Linked DNA regions of Homo sapiens: region 2 is linked to region 1. The links come from fine-mapping of genetic effects on gene expression. A gene starts in region 1. The other region holds a variant in brackets. All regions are shown on one strand. Distances are from middle to middle.

Evidence for each region. PIP is the estimated chance that this variant, and not a neighbour inherited with it, causes the effect.
Region 2: its variant is fine-mapped to the expression of CTNS in whole blood (TOPMed, PIP above 0.99).

Annotation. Positions count from the first base shown.
Region 1 is chr17:3,633,493-3,638,854 of GRCh38, forward strand. It overlaps CTNS (cystinosin, lysosomal cystine transporter), which reads left to right and starts at 3,268. Exons shown (of 12, transcript NM_004937.3): 1 at 3,268-3,339; 2 at 3,615-3,824. SHPK (sedoheptulokinase) reads right to left here and starts at 2,758. Exons shown (of 7, transcript NM_013276.4): 1 at 2,560-2,758. The coding sequence starts at 2,727. LOC105371493 (a long non-coding RNA gene) reads right to left here. Exons shown (of 6, transcript XR_007065579.1): 6 at 5,005-5,362. RefSeq lists enhancers at 310-1,175, 3,014-3,263 and silencers at 2,474-2,533, 3,544-3,633.
Region 2 is chr17:3,658,868-3,664,229 of GRCh38, forward strand. It overlaps CTNS (cystinosin, lysosomal cystine transporter), which reads left to right. Exons shown (of 12, transcript NM_004937.3): 11 at 991-1,108; 12 at 1,369-4,236. The coding sequence ends at 1,502. TAX1BP3 (Tax1 binding protein 3) reads right to left here. Exons shown (of 4, transcript NM_014604.4): 3 at 5,328-5,362; 4 at 4,028-5,018. The coding sequence ends at 4,881. P2RX5-TAX1BP3 (P2RX5-TAX1BP3 readthrough (NMD candidate)) reads right to left here. Exons shown (of 15, transcript NR_037928.1): 14 at 5,328-5,362; 15 at 4,026-5,018. Among named protein-coding and RNA genes, the nearest start is that of TAX1BP3, 7.0 kb to the right of the region's middle. The variant ACT/A (reference allele first, on the strand shown) is at 2,675.

The DNA of each region.
Region 1 (5,362 bases):
ACCAAGGTTGAGAAACCCTGCTATATAGACTAACTCACAGCAGTGCTGTTTGTCCCAGAGCACGATTCATATGTGGTGTGGGGGGGTTAATGACTGGCCTCCGCTAAGCACTTCATTAAATAGGTGTGACACACTGGGTGAGCCTGTAAGCACAGAACAGCCTGCTGAAAGCTGGGGAGGGAGGGCAGAAAAGTTTTCAAGAAGTGGCCGTGCTGCCGCCCCTACTGGGAAGTGAGGAGCCCCTCTGCCCGGCCACCACCCCGTCTGGGTAGTGTACCCAACAGCTCATTGAGAATGGGCCATGATGACAATGGCGGTTTTGTGGAATAGAAAAGGGGGAAAGGTGGGGAAAAGATTGAGAAATCGGATGGTTGCTGTGTCTGTGTAGAAAGAAGTAGACATGGGAGACTTTTCATTTTGTTCCGTACTAAGAAAAATTCTTCTGCCTTGGGATCCTGTTGATCTGTGACCTTACCCCCAACCCTGTGCTCTCTCAAACATGTGCTGTGTCCACTCAGGGTTAAATGGATTAAGGGCGGTGCAAGATGTGCTTTGTTAAACAGATGCTTGAAGGCAGCATGCCCGTTAAGAGTCATCACCACTCCCTAATCTCAAGTACCCAGGGACACAAACACTGCGGAAGGCCGCAGGGTCCTCTGCCTAGGAAAACCAGAGACCTTTGTTCACTTGTTTATCTGCTGTCCTTCCCTCCACTATTGTCCTATGACCCTGCCAAATCCCCCTCTGCGAGAAACACCCAAGAGTGATCAATTAAAAAAAAAAAAAAAGTGGCCATGCTGGGTGCGGTGGCTCACACCTGTAATCCCAGCACTTTGGGAAACCGAGGCAGGCAGATCAGTTGAGGTCAGGAGTTTGAGACCAGCCTTGCCAACATGGTGAAACCCCATCTCTACCAAAAATACAAAAAAATTCTCCAAGCATGGTGGCGCACACCTGTAATCCCAGCTACTCGGGAAACTGAGGCACGAAAATCACTTGAACCCGGGAGGCAGAGGTTTCAGTGAGCAGAGATTGCACCACTGCACTCCAGCCTGGGTGACAGAGCGAGACCCTGTCTCAAAAAAAAAAAAAAAAAAAAAAGAAGTGCTCTATTTCAGGAGAAACTGGCACTTTCTGAGCCTACTCTCCCCTAATGCCAGCTCTCCTGCTCACCCCACCAGGGTCAGAGCCAACTTTGCCTCCAATTCATAGTCCTTTAAGTAAGAATCCTTTTAATATGCCCTAATGTCCCAACCAAACTAATCTTGAAAGCTTCTATGTAGATACAAAGTGCTCCTGAAATCCCTATCCTCAGAAATGCTTCTGAGCCAAATGGGCTCTGAACCCTAAACAACCGTGTCCATGTATGTGGCAAGAGCTTGTGAAAAACAAAGCTGGGCCAGGCGCAGTGACTCACAACTGTAATCCTAGCACTTTGGGAGGCTGAAGTGGGCAGATCACTTGAGGTCAGGAGTTCAAGACCAGTCTGGCGAACATGGCGAAACCCTGTCTCTACTAAAAATACAAAAAGTAGCCGGGCGCGGTGGCTCACACCTGTAGTCCCAGCTACTCGGGAGGCTGAAGCAGGAGAATCACTTGAATCCAGTTGGCGGAGGTTGCAGTGAGCCCAGATCACGCCACTGTACTCCAGCCTGGGCAACAGAGCGAGACTTGGTAAGAAAGAGAAAGAAAGGAAAGAATGAAGGAAGGAAGGAAGGAAGGAAGGAAGGAAGGAAGGAAGGAAGGAAGGAAGGGAAGGAAGGGAAGGAGTCTCGCTCTGTCACCCAGGCTGGAGTGCAACGGAGCGATCTCGACTCACTGCAAGCTCCGCCTCCCGGGTTCGCGCCATTCTCCTGCCTCAGCCTCCCGAGTAGCTGGGACTACAGGCGCCCGCCACCACGCCCCGCTAATTTTTTGTATTTTTAGTACAGACGGGGTTTCACCGTGTTAGCCAGGATGGTCTCGATCTCCTGACCTCGTGATCCGCCCGCCTCGGCCTCCCAAAGCGCTGGGATTACAGGCGTGAGCCACCGCGCCCGGCTGACCAAAGGTTTCTTGGTCCGCATTCTGCTTCTGTGGAATGAGCCAGGAGCCAGTTAGGCCTGATTTGACATCTGATTTCCGGAGGAAAACCCAGACTCTGCCCTGGGCAACAAACTGAATCCTGAACTTGAGGTCACAGGGCAGGTGTGAGGAGCGGAGAGCAGCAAGAGTGAAAGGGAGGCCTGTGGTCATTCCATACACACAAGAGATCAGTTCCTCCAAGGTCAGGGGACAGAGAGCACAGGGATCCAGCGCCAAGCGCAAGGCCCCCAGAAGAAGCCAGAGAGTCGGGGAGGGGGCGGGGGGGAATCGGTCCCAGCAGGTGGGAAGGATTCTGGGACCAGACCTAAGGGATCATGAGCACAGCTGCTGCAGGCAGACGGGCCCCTGGAGAAGCTGGGGACAAGCTGGAATAGAGACTTCATTGCGGGAAGGGCTGTCAGGGAGGCCTCCTGGGGTGGAAAAGGGTGGTCAGGAGGCTCCTGGAGGCGGCGCGGCCCCGGGGGTCCAACTCACCTGGGGCCCGGCCACCGCGCTCTCGACCGCCGCCTCTGCCCGCGCAGCACGGGCACAGCTCGCCAGCACTGCGAACCCGGATGGGTCGTCGGGCGCGGCCCTCAGCAGAGCTGCCTTCACAGATGTGGTGCCCAGGTCAATGCCGAGGGTGATCGGCCGCGCAGCCATTATCTCCCTGACCCGCGCAGCTCCAGTCTGCAGCCAGCGGCCCCACAAGTCCGCGCTCTTCGCCCAGGGGGGCGGGGCAGGGGCGGGGAGTCGCCTGCCAATCTTTCAGCCACACCCAACATGGAGGCTTCTCGTCTTCCCACTGGCCGGGGAAGGCGAGCTTCCACGCAACCTCTCGGCGGGCCCCGGCTATAGGCGGAGAGGCGGCGGAAGGCGGGACCTAAAGGGGGCCCCGCCCCACGGGCTCTGATTTCCGCCCAATGGAGGGCGGTCTGAGCTTCGCTCACGAAAGGAGCCGGGAGGCGCTGGCGGCTCCAAGAGTCTCTGTGTCCCTGGCAGCGGACCTCATCTTCCCTCACGCCGGAGCCCCGATCTCTGCGCCCCGGCCCGACCCAGCTGCGCTCTGTCCGTCTAAGACGCGCGGAAACTACAACTCCCAGAGCTCATCTCGCCGAGATCCGGCCCCACGAGTCAGGTGGCGGAGGTCAGGTGACAGCGGACCCGCCTCTCCCAAAGTCTAGCCGGGCAGGGGAACGCGGTGCATTCCTGACCGGCACCTGGCGAGGCTCATGCGTCCCGTGAGGGCGGTTCCTCGAGCCTGGGGGCGCTCAGGTGAGAGCGGACGCGGCCTCCCCTGTTTCCCAGGCGGACCCCTTGAGGCACAGCAGGTCAGCGGGGCAGCCTGCCGGGGGTCCAGCGCCCTCAGCCGCGGCGGGCTCCTTTCCCCGCCACCAGTGCTGGCCTCGCGACACGGGACAACCCCCGGGTGGAAGGGCCCGAGCGGTGGTCAGCCGAGGCAGGGGCAGCGGGCTGCCGGGGTGGGTGCCGTTCCCAGCCCCTTACCTTCTGCTCAGTTGCCGCCTGGGTCTCGGTTGGGGAATTTGCAGATTGCTTTGGAGACGCTGAGAGAACCTTTGCGAGAGCGCCGGTTGACGTGCGGAGTGCGGGGCTCCGGGGGACTGAGCAGCACGAGACCCCATCCTCCCCTCCGGGTTTTCACACTGGGCGAAGGGAGGACTCCTGAGCTCTGCCTCTTCCAGTAACATTGAGGATTACTGTGTTTTGTGAGAGCTCGCTAGGCGCCCTAAGCAACAGAGGTAACCACTTTATATCCTTGTTTCTCAACCTCGTTATTCCTACCTACCCCCTTCCCATAAAATTTAATACCACTAGTACGCTGTGTATTTGTTTCTGTGGCCACAAACCATTGTAATAGCTAGATTTCTTCACTACCACCCCAAGCCAATTTTTTTTTTTTTTTTGAGATGGAGTCTGCAGCCTCTGTCACCCAGGCTGGAGTGCAGTGGCGCGATCTCGGCTCACTGCAACCTCCGCCTCCGGGGTTCAAGCGATTCTCCTACCTCAGCCTTCCGAGTAGCTGGGACTACAGGCCTGAGCCACCATGCCCAGCTAATTTTTGTATTTTTAGTAGAGATGGGGATTCACCATGTTGGCCAGGCTGGTCTCGAACTCCTGACCTCAGGTGATGCGCTCACCTCGGCCTCCCAAAGTGCTGGGATGACAGGCGTGAGCCACCGCGCCCAGCCTACCCCCAGCCAATTTTAGTCCCACTTGACAATGCGTGCTTTACATCTCCTCATTTAAGTCCTGTGAGGTAGTTACCACCTCCTTGTTTGGCACCACAAGGTCGCATAAGTAATAAATAGGTCAAGCCTGTCTCCAGTGCACACAGCCCTTGCCACTATTTGTGTACCCTCTCCAAAAGCAGGAGACCCAGGGAGTTCCAGGTCGTAGAACAGAGGACAGGACCAACTCATACCTGGCAGACAGGAGCTGCCACACTAGACCCCTAGCCCCAGGTTGCTCCTGGGAAGGGACTGAATGGGTGAGGAGCCTTCTTGAAACATGTGACATCTGAATGAGGCCTGGACAATAGTTAGAACTTACATAGGAAGGGCACGCCAGACAGAGCCCATTGTCAGGAGATACTTCATTTCTATCTTGTAGCTTTCACAAGCCACTAGTTGTATGTAATTATCAATCTGGTTTTTTTTTTGTTTTTTTTTTTTAATTTGAGACGGAGTTTCACTCTTATCACTCAGGCTGGAGTGCAATGGTGCAATCTCGGCTCACTGCAACCTCCACCTCCCGGGTTCAAGCGATTCTCCTGCCTCAGCCTCCTGAGTAGCTGGGACTACAGGCACATGCCACCACGCCTGGCTAATTTTTGTATTTTTAGTAGAGACGGGGATTCACCATGTTGGCCAGGCTGGTCTCGAACTCCTGACTTCAAGTGATCCAACTGCCTCGGCCTCCCAAAGTGCTGGAATTACACACACGAGCCACTGCGCTCAGCCTAATCTGATGTTTTTTAACATTTTAATTGACTTACCTCTCAATGTCGTTTTGTCTCTGCTGGCATCGTTCCTCCAGGGGTCTCAGCCTTTGAGGCTTGGGAATGTTTGCTGACCAAGTCTGTGAGTTTGAGAAGCTGGTTAGGCCTGATTCTGCATCTAATTTCTGGAGAAAAACCAGACTCTGTCCTGGGCAACAAACTGAATCCTGAACTTGAGGCCACAGGGCAGGTGTGAGGAGCGGAGGGCAGCAAGAGTGAGAGGGAGGCCTGTGGTCATTCCATACACGCAGGAGGGCAATTCCTCCAAGGTCAGGGGAC
Region 2 (5,362 bases), 25 kb after region 1:
CAGAGGCTGGGGCGGGACACGGGGCGGCAGTGAGGGGATGTGGCTGGTTGAACAGTGTTGAGCATGTTGAAGCTGGGAAGCTGGGGTCAGGTCCCGGGAGCTGGGGGGGGCTTCCGAGGAGGGGAAGGTTTGGGGAAGTGGGCCCCAGTCCCTGAGGGTGGGAGGGATTGGGGCCAAGAAACCGGGGATGGAGGAGCCCAGGTTGGAGACGTTTGGAACTGCTGGAGGGGCAGCAGCAAGTACGGAAGAGGGTGAGCCGGGACACAGACAGGGACTGACTAGAGGCTCACTGGGAGGCCACCAGAGAGGCCAGGACCTGCCTCACGGGGGGAAGGAAAGGTCACAGCAGTCAGAGGACCCACAGGGCTCTGCAGCATGGGAGGACGTGGGGCACAGGCAGTCAGACTGGGGCGCATCCCCGCAGACCCGCCCCCCCAACCAGACCCAGGAAGCCCCGGCCAGGCCTGTGGGGGGCGTTAACCCCGCTCTACAGACGGGGAAACCAAGGCTAGGAGAACTGTCACTTGCCCAAGACAGCAGGCTCCGGTGATGGAGCCAGGATTCCAAACCAGAAGTCCCACTCCCACCAGTCCCTAAGCACATGAAGTCCAGGCTGAGTTTGGGGACAGCCTTGCCTGGAGGTGAGAAGAAGAATCATAGCTACAGGGAAACTAGCACAGGGCCTTGGCCCCAGGGATGTGGAGGAGACGGGGAAGGCCGCATCGGCCCCGCCTCTGCTGGAGCTGTGAGGTGTGGGGGGTGCGGGGCCTTTGCTTGCTGTACATGCAGATGAGACGCCTACCCCCAGGACCACCCAAACTGTTCCTTGGCTGAGGCCTGTCATAGCCCAAAGGTCACCGTGTCCTTGGAGCCAAGGCCCCAGTGGGAGGAATGAGAACCGCTTTTGTTTGGAGGGGCAGTCACGAGGCGCATGAGGCAGCCGCCCAGCCCTCACCGCCCTCCGTCTGTCTGTCCGTCTGTCTGGCCCAGGCCTACATGAACTTTTACTACAAAAGCACTGAGGGCTGGAGCATTGGCAACGTGCTCCTGGACTTCACCGGGGGCAGCTTCAGCCTCCTGCAGATGTTCCTCCAGTCCTACAACAACGGTGAGTCAGCCAGCGGGCTGCTGGCCACCCTGCGGCTGGGGCATCGGGCGGGGCCAGCCTTCCCGGGACCTTCCAGCCAGGGCTCCACCCCCACCTGGGATCCAAGCCAATCCAGCCCCCAAGGAGAGACCCACCTAGGGGCCTTCGTAGCTGGAGGCTTTGTGGTTTTCTGGGACCCCCACCGCCCACCACCCCACAAGCTCCAGCTGCCTCAGGAGCTGCCAACCTAACACCAGCTTCTGTCCCCCGGCTGCTAACAGACCAGTGGACGCTGATCTTCGGAGACCCAACCAAGTTTGGACTCGGGGTCTTCTCCATCGTCTTCGACGTCGTCTTCTTCATCCAGCACTTCTGTTTGTACAGAAAGAGACCGGGGTATGACCAGCTGAACTAGCACCCAGGGACCCAGTGTACCCAGCCTCTGGCCTCGTGCCCTGCTGGGGAAGGCCTCACCCAGCGAAGGCCGGAGAAGCGGTTGGGCCCTGGCACACAGGGCTGGCTCAGTGTGCGGACAGAGGAGACCACTCTGCTCCTGGGGCCAGAGGCCATTCAATAGCCTGCCTTCGTCCGGGCCCCTCCTGGGCCTCCCCGGCCAGGCACGTGGCACCGTCGCCTTGACACCGCCATCTCTTTTCTTTAAGGCTTCAGGCAGCGCGCACAGGCTCTGGCAGCCGTCTCAGGCAGGACTGGGCACCAAGCTTGCAGCCGAAGGCCTTGCCCCAAACTACCAGCGTTTCTGCAAGCAGCTTGAAGGGCTGACCTTGCAGCCGGGTGAGCCAAGGGCACTTTGCTGCCACCGCTGCATTCCCAGAGATCAAGCAGCCCGGTGCCGTGGCCAGTGAACTCAGAGGTGCTGGTGGACGGGCTAGGACTTTGGGGTTAGGCCATGGGGCTCTTTCTCTGAAGGCCACTTTCCTGACGTACTCTCTGTACATAACTCAGCGTCCGTGACTGCAGTAACAGCCAGCCCTACCCAGAGTATTTCTGAGCCATGAGGGGCCCACCAGATTGGTTCTGAATTGGATTCATGCCCAGCGCATTAGCATAGTAACTCCTTTCAGATTTTTTGGAGGGACGTTTGGAAGTGGCTTACTCTCTTCTGCCCTCTCTCCTACCTCCACCTTCTCAGATTAGCCCCATCTGAGCACATCCAGCTGCTCCTTACCCAGCATCTGGAGTACAGGACATAGCTCTCTCCTGCTACCAGTCTGTGCCTTAGAGGTCTGTTAGGCCTGCCAAACGGCGACCAGCTCCCCTGGAGCGAGGGCAGGCCCCTTCCCTCTCTTTCCCCAGACACCTACTTGAGACTCACCAATTTCTGGCCTGTTCAGGAGCCTCAGATAAGTATTTGTACTTGAGACCACCTCACACAATCTGTATGGGCCCAACCCTGATCTCAAACCTCCTTCCCTCTGCCCAAAGCTGTCCTTCCTATGGCAGGAGGGGTGGGGGTCCCAGGACGTGCCTCATACATGACTTGAGCTTGTCAGTCCACTGAGTTTCCTTCTACGAGATCAACGCGAGGGGCCTGTATCTTGAATTAAAACCTACTCGCTTCCTTTCTGC[ACT/A]CTGTGTGCTCGATACAGAAGGCAGGTGTGCTGGCCTTCAGAGCCAGGTGCCCTGCTCCCCTCGTGTAAGGAAGCGCATAAGGTTGTGAAGGTCACTGACCCGAGAGCGCTGCGTGCTGACCCCACACTTCACTGGGGAGCCCTCTTGGGTAGCGCGAGACGCCTACCCGCCCAGGGCCAGGTCAGTCTCCCAGGCTCCGTGTCTTCACGGTTACCAGGGCACGCCACTCAATCTGGATGTGAGCCGGGGTGGATGAGGTTCTGAAGGGCACACCAGCACTGGGAGCGGGGGCAGTGGGGGTCTTATTCTCCAGACGCTTCCTCTATCTAGTTGTAACAAACGTCAAAGAATGTCAGGTCTTGTTTCTGCAGAGCAGACTTTGGCCTGACGGGGTCCACAGACCTGTTTCACTTGCAACACCCAGTAAATGTGTTACTGGGTGCCCTACTTTAAAAATCAGAGATTTCAAATGATTGACTTTTCCGGCTGAGTGCGGTGGCTCACGCCTGTAATCCCAGCACTTTGGGAGGCCAAGGCAGATGGATCACCTGACATCAGGAGTTCGAGACCAGCCTAGCCAACATTGCAAAACCCCATCTCTACTAAAGATACAAAAATTAGCTGGGCATGGTGGCGGGCACCTGTAATCCCAGCTACTTGGTTGGCTGAGGCAGGAGAATTACTTGAACCCAGGAGGCGGAGGTTGCAGTGAGCGAAGATCACGCCATTGCACTCCAGCCTGGGCAACAAGAACGAAACTCCATCTCAAAAAAAAAAAAAAATTATTGACTTTTCTTTAAAATCTGATTTGGCAGTGCTAGGTAGGTCCAGGAGTGCTAACACCTTCCCAGAGGTGGTACGCAGGTAGTCAGGTGCTCTCTGACTCACCCCCATCTGGCCAGATCACGGCCCCCAGCAACACGTGGGGTTGTGTCCCTCGCTGGGATACACGGAGTGCCCTTATAGGCAGGGAGTCTTATAGGCAGGGGTCTCTCCCAGGCACCTCTGGGTGTCCCTACGGCCCCTCCCAGGTGGGAGCTGAGGCTAGGTTGCAAAAAGGAGGTTGGGAGCAAGTAGGGGCTTCACAGTAACACCCAAGAAAGCACACGCACCCCAGGGTCCCACCCCAGTGCTCCCAGACACTCCCACAGATGTGGTTCTGGTCAGGCGCAGTGCAGCTGCTGCGGCTCCACCAGCCCCGGGCTTTCAGGCAGGTGGGCCTGGGAGTAGTTGAGCTTTGTCCCAGAACAGTGGGGGATGGGGCCATCATTAAAACCACAGCTCTGGCCCCAATATCCCACCGCCACCCCCACCCCGATATCCCAGCCCATGCCTCAGCAAAGCCCCCTGTGAATTCCAGCATTTTTATTGAGCGCACCACATCGGGGAGGGGCGGCAGTGGTTTCCACGGTAACCAAAGTAAGGCTTGTGCACTTGCTGAGCTTCCAGATGCGAATTAGTAAAAGCTAAATTCAAAAGTAGAATGGGCATCTCCAAAGAGTACGATAAAAACATTTTGTATCAAACTTGTGATTAAAAAAATACAAAAGTTAAACCCACAGGCAAAGAGGAAAATGACAATCCTGAGAGCTGCCCTGATAGGTGAGCCTCGAACCTCGTCTAAATCCGTAAGAAGGCAAACCCTGGGGAGGCCAGCACCCCTCGGGAGAGTGGGAGTGAACGCGGAGCCCACCTGGCTTCATCTGGGCAAAGCTTCGTAGCGCCTCTGGCAGGATGTGTGTCCAGTCCCCCGAGGGGCAGAGGCACTGCGGTGTGGACACACGAGGGCTGGGGGGCAGGGGCGGAGCCGAACCCTGCAGCCAGGCAAAAGCGGGAAAGGCCTGGTTCCTCCAGCATTTCCCAGCTTTTGGGGGCTCCCAAGAGATAGTGGTTCCCACTTGCCCAGCCACTGCTGTGGCCAAGCAGCAGGGTCGGACCTGAGCCTGTGGTCACAGCAGACTGGCTACTACTCAGCTCCAGGCCCTTATTTCCAATCCTCGGTGTCCAGGAGAGAAAGCCGGTCCCAGAGGCCCCAGGCCAGGGATGGGAGAAGGGAAGGAAGGCCAGGCCAGGCCTCTGGGACCAGCTATAGCCCTTCTGAGCTGGGGCCCAGCGGTCAGCAGAAGCCAGATGGGGACAGAGTGTGGAAGTGGCGTTACTGTACAGAGAGGCGGCAGGCAGGAGTCGCAGATGGTGGTGGCTGCTAGGACAGCATGGACTGCTGCACGGCCTTCTGCAGCGACTGCCGCGTCACCAGCAGACGCACCACCTCCTCCGAGCGCTTGGTGAGCCGCTTGCGGGCCTGGTCGTGTGTGACCATGGTCATGTCCCAGCCGTTCACCTGGCCCCAGGAGAGAACACAGGCTCACCTCAGCTCCCCGCCCTCTGGGATCTGGAAGCAGAGGGCTTTGGGGGCCCAGGTCATTCAAGTAGGCCCCCAGCCTAACATCCCAGGGCTGGGAGACACCAAGCACTGTGGCTGAGACACACAGGAGAGAAAGCCAGCGTCCTCTGGGGCAATGCCAGTATGGGTTCCCAATTGGCTGCAGTGAGTCTCTCCCAGCTGGGAGGCTGGGGCAGCTCCCCACCCCCAAGTGCTTCAGACCTGCTTGCCCAAACCTTGTTTCTCCTCCTTTGGGACACCTGTTACCTGCATGATCTTGTCTCCAATCTGCAGCCCAGCGA